Linked DNA regions of Homo sapiens: region 2 is reported to be linked to region 1. Evidence: microRNA targets listed by miRTarBase, many of them from high-throughput screens and not tested one by one. Region 1 holds a microRNA gene; the other region holds the end of a gene's coding sequence.
Evidence for each region. Region 1 holds the annotated microRNA hsa-miR-1272 (GAUGAUGAUGGCAGCAAAUUCUGAAA, at 2,024-2,049, shown strand). A microRNA usually pairs through its seed, bases 2 to 8, with sites in the 3' UTR of a target mRNA and lowers its output. Matches are read on the target gene's strand: a 7mer-m8 pairs with bases 2 to 8, a 7mer-A1 pairs with bases 2 to 7 and ends in A, and an 8mer does both.

Region 1 (4,580 bases):
CTTCTACCTCTGAACAGAAACCCCCTCCTGACAGGAGCATCATGTTAGGAAACATCTCTCCTGTCAGGTTTCATTCGCCTCCGTCAAGTAATGGGCTAGGTGTGGTGGGCTCGGGGCTGTGTGTTCATGCCAGCATAGCATCATGTGGTTTAAGGGTTGGAGGTATTGATTTAGGAGCTGGCAGTGAGGGGTGTAGGGGTCCTCTAGCCCAATGCCTTGAATCTAGTCCCTTCTGTAGGGTATTGTATGGCAGTGGCGGCAACTGCAACCCTTGCCAGGCACACAGGCAGGCAGTAGATCTGTGTTAGCTGGCCACACAGCACCAAGAAGGCTGCAGGAGGTGGGTGGGCCTGGGAGGCTTCCATGCCGGGGTGCCCAGTGAACTTTGCCCCTGAAAGCCAAGTCCTGGCCCCTGGCTCTGTCTGGATCCTGATGGAAGGCACGCTTCAGCCAGCCTGCCCTGACACAGAGTTTGCAAGCACAGCTCATTCTCTGTTTGGTCTAGTTCCCTAAATGAGGTGTAGGTCAAGTGCACACAACAGGCTTTGACCAGGTGTGTTCCCACGACATTAAGGCTTCTCTTCCTGGGGCTGGAAGTGGCTTGGAGAATGAGGCCTGAAGCCTTCTTATACCTGCCCAGCCCTGTCCCTCCTTTCAGATAACTTTTCACCCTGGCTTAGTTCCCCCCAGTCTCTATTCCCCCCACCCCTACACACACACACCATTGGAAGTCTAGGACACATTGCACATTATGAGGAAGAGCCCCAAACTTTTCAGGCAACTTGGACTTAAGCCTCAGCTCTGCCACTGGCCAGCCAGGCACTTGATCCCTGGACTGACTTCTGCATCTGTAAAATGGGGACCCCATACCTGTTCTACCTGTTGCTCAAAGGACTATGAGCTTTGCATGCTGATGGTTTGTGTAAAGGAATGAAACTACAAGGTGCAGCCCAGGATGGGGCCTTATAGCCAGGCCCTGATAACATGGGATTTGGGGCAAGAGGGATAGCAGGGGCAGGCAGAACACCAGATCCCACCTGAACCTGGGACTTGTCCTTACTAGGTGAGGCTGTGGTGACACTGGTAAACTCTGGGGCCAAGTGTCCTCTAGATGGGGGCTTCTTGCAAGGGGATCTGGGCATCGTCCTTGCCTGGGTAGCTGAGCCACCCCAGAGCTCCTTGCAGGAAGCATGGGAAACATGTTGTGGAGTGTGTGGATCTAGGTTCACATCCACTGTCTGGCTGTGTGCTGCTTGCTGTCTTCCCCTGTGTCCTTATTCAGAGCCTTATAAGTCCTGGGTCTGCAGGCCATGTCGCCACATTCCATCCACCTCACGTCAAGTGGCCATACTCAGAGGGCCTTCTTTCCTATGGGAGGCGTAAGAGCAACCTGCTGGTGCCAAGCCTAAGCGCGGGGCCCAGGCAGGACCCAATCCCCCAAAACACTCCCACCCCCACCCCCTACCCACTACGGCGACCAAGACCACACCAAGGGTATGACTGCCCTGACGTTTCTGTTCGGCAGCCCTAACGTTGGCTCTGCAGAGACCCCCCTCAAGTTCCCAGGCCCAGGTCGGTCTAGGGCCCAGAGCTGGCTGGCCCCTGACTTCCATCTTGTCCCCTTCTCTTCTCTGTTCACACCACTTCTTTGCCACCTTGTGTGCAGAAGGAGTCACTGAAGCTCTGAGCAGATGGAGGATGGTGGCTGAGTCTTATCTGAGACTCAGTCGCATTCTACTGCCCTTTAAAACGCCTGGTGTCATAGAGTGTCAGTGTGTGACGGGACCTGAGGCGAGTCTACTCTACTGTAGCTGAGGCTGACAAGCGAAGGCCACAAAGCCACCTGCTATGGCTGGTGACAGGGCTGGGGCTTCACCCTGGGCTTCCTGACGTTGTTTTGAGGTTCTTTGTCTTTTGTTTGGAATCTCGTCAGTGGGTATCTTCTGAGCTGGACCCTGAGTGCAGTGTCCTGGTTCTCAGTGGGGTCTCTTTCCCTTGGGGAAGCCAGATCAGATCTGGGTGCGATGATGATGGCAGCAAATTCTGAAAACGTGCTCAGTGTCTTTATAACAGGAAAGCCGTAAACTTAGAAATGTAGGCTGCAGCTCGTGTGCTCTGTGGTCTGGGCTGGTAGGGATGGCTGGGCCTGCTCCAGCACCCATCCCCAACCTCCCCATAGCTAGTGGGGCACAAGGCCACTCACACTCAGCTGTGGGGAGTTGACAGTCTGTCAGTCAGTCTCGTCGTTGGCCTGTAACCATGTAGGATTCACCGTGGCATCATCCAGTGGGACCACCCCCCACCCCCCTGCCATCGCCACCATCACCATCATACCTACCCCAACCTTTTGCAAGATACTGTGTCTGTCCTCTTTGTTCATGAGCTGAAGACCAGGCCAGGCGTGAGTCACTTTGGGATTGCAGGAGGATGGCTTGAGTCCAGGAATTCGAGATGAGCTTGGGCAACATGGTGAGACCCCACCTCTACACAAAATTAAAAAATTAGCCGGGAGTTGGGCACAGTGGCTCATGCTTGTAATCCCAGCACTTTGGGATGCTGAGGCGGATGGATCACTTGAGGTCAGGAGTTTTTGAGACCAGCCTGGCCAACATGGTGGAACCCCATCTCTACTAAAAATACAAAAATTGTCGGGCATGGTGGTGGGTGCCTATAATCCCAGCTATTTGGGAGGCTGAGGCAGGAGAATCACTTGAACCCAGGAGGCGGAGGTGGAGGTTGCAGTGAGCCAAGATCATGCCATTGCATTGCAGCCTGGGCGACAGAGTGAGACTCCGTCTCAAAAAAAAAAAAAAAAAAAAAAAAGCTGGGCTTTGTGGTGTGCACCTGTGGTCCCAGTTACTCAGGAGATGGAGGCAAGAGGATCGCTTGAGTCCAGGAGGCTGCAGTGAGCCATGTTTGCGCCACTGCACTCCAGCCTGAGCAACAGAGCAAGACCCTGTCTCAAAAAAGCCGAAGGCCAGTTGTTCCTGGGTACCTTGGGCTGGCCCCACTGGGTCTGAGTGGGTTGGTGTGAGATCAAGGTCTGCAAAAGAGCATTGACTCGTGAGCTGGGCACTTGGGAACAGGCTGTTTCTGACATGCTCGGTAACTGCGAGCAACTCGCTCGACCCCTAGGCCCTGGTTTCCTCCTCTAAAAATAAGGTTTCTTCCAGCTCAGATGTTCTGTATTTGGGTTGCTACTGAGGGCTGGGAGTTGGGGAAGGATGTGGGAGGGGCTTATAAGAGGCTCGTTTTTCCCTTTTTGGATTTCTCTCCTCTTCTCACCCCCTTCCCAAAGTAGTGTTTTCCATCGGGATGACACCGGGAGAGCTCGCTCGAAGCAGTGGGTAGGGGACTGCTGAAGCACGTGCATTCGTTACTTGAACATTGTGAGTGGACAGTTGAAACAATTCTTCCTTTCCAGATTGAATTCTAACTTTTAGAGATGCTAAAGGGTTGCTGCAAAAGTCTTTTTTTTTTTTTTTTTAAGGATATTTCTATTGCCTGCAGTGAGATTTTCCTGGGGTGTCTTTTCTCCAAGTCCCAATCCTGTGAGACAGGAATTTACAGAAGGCCAGAGTTGGCCTCTAGGGGTGACTGTTCCTGGTGGGTTGGTGGGTTGTCTGTGGGCAGGGAAGAGTGGGGAGTGGTTCCAGTGGTTTCTTGCCTCAGTATCCTTGGTGGAGAAGGGTCTGTTTGCTTTCTTTTTTTTTTTTCGAGATGGAGTTTCACTCTTTTTGCCCAAGCTGGAGTGCAATGACGTGATCTCGGCTCAGTGCAACCTCTGTCTCCTGGGTTCAAGCGATTTCTCCAGCCTCAGCCTCCCGAGTAGCTGGGATTACAGGCGTGCGCTACCATGCCTGGCTGATTTTTGTATTTTTAGTGGAAAGGGGATTTCACCATGTTAGCCAGGCTGGTCTAGAACTCCTGACCTCAGGTGATCCGGAGAAGGATCTGTTTTCTAGGTGGTGGTTCCTGGAGTCTGGGGTCCTTTCGTGGCTATTCTAAGGCCGGGATTTGTCCTCCAAACTTAAAGCTTAAGAGACTTTAATATCCCTGAGCCTACCACTGTTTTTGAAAGCAGTGTTTACCTTTTCCATCACTAATAAAAGCCAGCACTTACGGAACTTGTCCTCATGGTCACAGTATCTGAGAAGTTTAGAGTTGGATCCCTCAGCATCGGGCTTGTCCTTCCCCTTGCAGAGGGAGACACGCTTCTGGTGAGCGGCCAGGCCGCAGCCACTTCTGACCAAGTGTGGGGTCCCCATGGTCGTGGCTCCTGGCCGACCCCATGTCCCAGTCCTGTTCTTCATGGAGGCTTTGCTCAGCTGCTTTGGCCCCTCCTTCTCCCCCACGAGCCCATTCCCTATTCCTGCAGGACCTCCATGTGAGCTGGGCCCTGTGTGTGCCCTGGAAGGAGGGACCCTAAGCATCTGCTGTCCAGGGCACTGGCCTTTTGTGGCAGCAGCTTGAATGCCAGGTCTGCCCATGGCAGTGTCCAGGGCCAAGAGAGACGTCTACCTGAGCTGATAGACACAGGCCGAGTAGGCCTGGCGCGGTGGCTCACGCCTGTAATCCCA
Region 2 (3,000 bases), not on the chromosome of region 1:
CTCGTGCAGCACCAGCGCACGCACACCGGGGAGCGACCCTACGCCTGCGGGGACTGTGGCAAGCGCTTCAGCGTCTCCTCCAACCTGCTGCGCCACCGGCGCACGCACTCGGGCGAGCGGCCCTACGTGTGCGAGGACTGTGGCGAGCGCTTCCGACACAAGGTGCAGATCCGCCGCCACGAGCGCCAGCTGCACGGCGCGGGCCGCTCCAGGGGCCTCGGCCTGCTGCGCGCCTCGCGGCCGGCGGCCCTCGGTGGCCCAGCCCGCGCGGAGCAGGCCGCTACAGCCACTGCGCCCGCAGACAAGGCGCTGTGAGGGCCGTGATCGGGGCTGCCTGGCCGGGAGGGGACCCCCCACCCGCCTCCACCTGAAAAGCTCCTTGACCCGGGTTCATGGGCGCTGGAGGCGTCCTGGAATATCCCTGGAGTAAAAGGCTTCCACCATCATCATCATCATCATCTTCCGGATTCCCTGAGAAAATACCAGGTTCACAGATTTCACCGCCAGAAAAATCCATCCGCCAAAAGAGAAGTGGACCGGGGCTGAAACAGCACACGGGACACGTTTGTCTGCCCTTTGAGGGGTCTGCCAAAGGTTTTCCCTCCGGGAAAACTGGACTTACTACGAACGAGGAAAAACCCCCAGTGGCGAGACGATTAATGACACTGGCCGAGGACTGGACACCCACCAGGGAATCAAGACGTGGTGAGACACACGTGGAAAATCTTCGATCCTGGTGAAAATGATCGCAAGGAGAAATTCGGGGAGGAAGCAAACTTGTTTGCACTATGTAGAAACTGACCAAGGCATCGAATCGTCCTCAGAGGCATTTGCCTTGAAAATACTTTCCAAGATGAAAATTCATCAGGGTGGGTATAATTCTGATGAAAACGCCTGTGTTCATCAACACAGGGTCAGAGCGCTCACCGGGTCGATGTGCAAATCCAAGCCAGGAAGTCCTGCTCCGGGTGGAAGGTAAAACCTTCCCTCCAGGGAACCAGGGGCTCCGGCGGGCATCGGAGGCAGCTTCTTGGCCTCTGCTGCTGTGTCCCCCAGTCCCCCCAGCCCGCATTAATGTCCTCTGGAATAAGAGCCTGTGGCTGAAGCAGAGGGCCTTCTGGGAGAGCTCTCCAAGGTCTGGAAGGAGGGTCCCCCAGAAGGAGCTCCGGGGTAGCCCCACTGTGGCCCCCCTGGACTCCACCAGCTTCATGCTTCTCAGATGCTACCCAGGGGCCGGCCCGGGGAGACCAGGGCAGATTTCTCCCGCACCAGGCTGTGGAGGTTTGGAGGGCTGCCTGAGCAGACACTGTGCCATTGCTGGGGCTGGGGAAAGAATATCTGAGACGACGTTTGGGAGCAATGCTCTTTACCACGTTCACCAAGTCGTCTGGGGCAGGGGTTGTGAGCTGCAGCAGTTGCTGGTGCCTTGTGGGAAGGTGGGGCAGGGAGGAGGCTGCCCGCCACCTCTGCCCCCAGTCACTTCCTGCTTGACCTGACTCTTCACATGTGGCTGCTTAATTCCTGCCCCTCTCCCCCCAGCTGCTTCTCCTTTACTAACACACCTGCTACATTTTACACATGTGTTGGTAAGTGAGAAACAGAAACGAAAAATAAATTAAAATGCAGAAATACAATGTCCTTGTCTTGGTGTTTTCACCTCTGGATTTTGTGTCTTCCATAGGGCTTCCTTTCTTTTCTTTCTTTCTTTTTTCCTTCCCTTCCCTTCCTTTCCCCGTCCCCCTTTTCCCCTTTCTTTCCTCTTTACCCTTCCCTTCCTTTCCTTTCTTCTTTCTGTTTCTTTTCTTTCTTTTTTTTTTAATGTTGCCTGGGCTGGTCTCAAACTCCCAGGCTCAAGCAATCCTTCCACCTCAGCCTCGCAAACTGCAGGGAGTACAGGTGTAGCCACTGTGCCTGGCCAAAGATTCATTCCTTTTTTTCTTTCTTTTTTTGAAAGAGGTTCTTGCTCTGTTGCCCAGGCTAGAATGCAGTGGTTTGATCACTGCAACCTGAAACTCCTGGGCTCAAGCAATTCTCCTACCTCAGCCTCCTGAGTAGGTGGGACTACAGGTGCATGCCACAATGTCTGGCTAATTTTTTTTTTTTTTTTTTTTTTTTGAGATGGAGTCTCACATTGTTGCCCAGGCTGGAGTGCAGTAGCATGATCTCTGCTCACTGCAACCTCCGCCTCCTGGGTTCAAGCGATTCTCCTGCCTCAGCCTCCTGAGTAGCTGAGATTACAGGCACCCGCCACTACGTCCGGCTAATTTTTTGTATTTTTAGTAGAGATGGGGTTTCACCATGTTGGCCAGGCTGGTCTTGAACTCCTGACCTTGTGATCTGCCCGCCTCAGCCTCCCAAAGTCCTGGGATTACAGGTATGAGCCCCTGCACCTGGCCATGTCTGGCTAAATTTTAATTAGTTTTTAGAGAGGGGGTCTCACTGTGTCGCCCAGGCTGTTGAGGTTCATTTCAAGGAAAATGTTTCTGGTTGCTCTCGAGCAAGGAGCATGCTGTTCAGGCCCATTACCCAATCCTCCTCACCCCAGACCAGCCTTCCAGCCTGAGGCCCTTGGCTGGGTAATGGACTTACTCGGTGAGAACCTCATGGGAGGGTCAGGTACCAGAGGGTGGATGCTTGAGAAGGCCAGCTTTGGGATCTAGTAAGGACAACCTTTGTATCAATTCAGCCCAACTTGGTAGTGGCTCACACCTGTAATCCCAGCACTCTGGGAGTCTGAGGTGGGGGGATCACTAGAGGTCAGGAGTTTGAGACCAGCCTGGGCAACATAACAAAACCCCATCTCTACTAAAAAATAATACCACTGCACTCCAGTCTGGGAAACAGCGAGACCATTTCCCCCTCCACCCCCCAAAAATTCAGGCCAGCTGCAGCCTGGAGTGATGGTGCTGAGCTCGCCCTGCTGCACAGCCACTTGGAGGAGCATCGTGAGGCCTGGAGTCTCCTCCCAGCCCTGAGAGTCTTCATTCATTCATTCATTCA

Region 2: miRTarBase lists ZNF853 as a target of hsa-miR-1272. Seed matches in the 3' UTR shown: 7mer-m8 at 444-450, 7mer-m8 at 447-453, 7mer-m8 at 450-456 and 7mer-m8 at 453-459.

What each region holds. Positions count from the first base shown.
Region 1 is chr15:64,759,940-64,764,519 of GRCh38, reverse strand. It overlaps MIR1272 (microRNA 1272), which reads left to right and starts at 2,005; the gene lies at 2,005-2,133. The region is part of intron 1 of RBPMS2 (RNA binding protein, mRNA processing factor 2); the gene reads left to right. RefSeq lists an enhancer at 1-777.
Region 2 is chr7:6,622,657-6,625,656 of GRCh38, forward strand. ZNF853 (zinc finger protein 853) reads left to right here. Exons shown (of 3, transcript NM_017560.3): 3 at 1-1,634. The coding sequence ends at 315. Among named protein-coding and RNA genes, the nearest start is that of ZNF853, 8.5 kb to the left of the region's middle. RefSeq lists an enhancer at 1,278-1,778.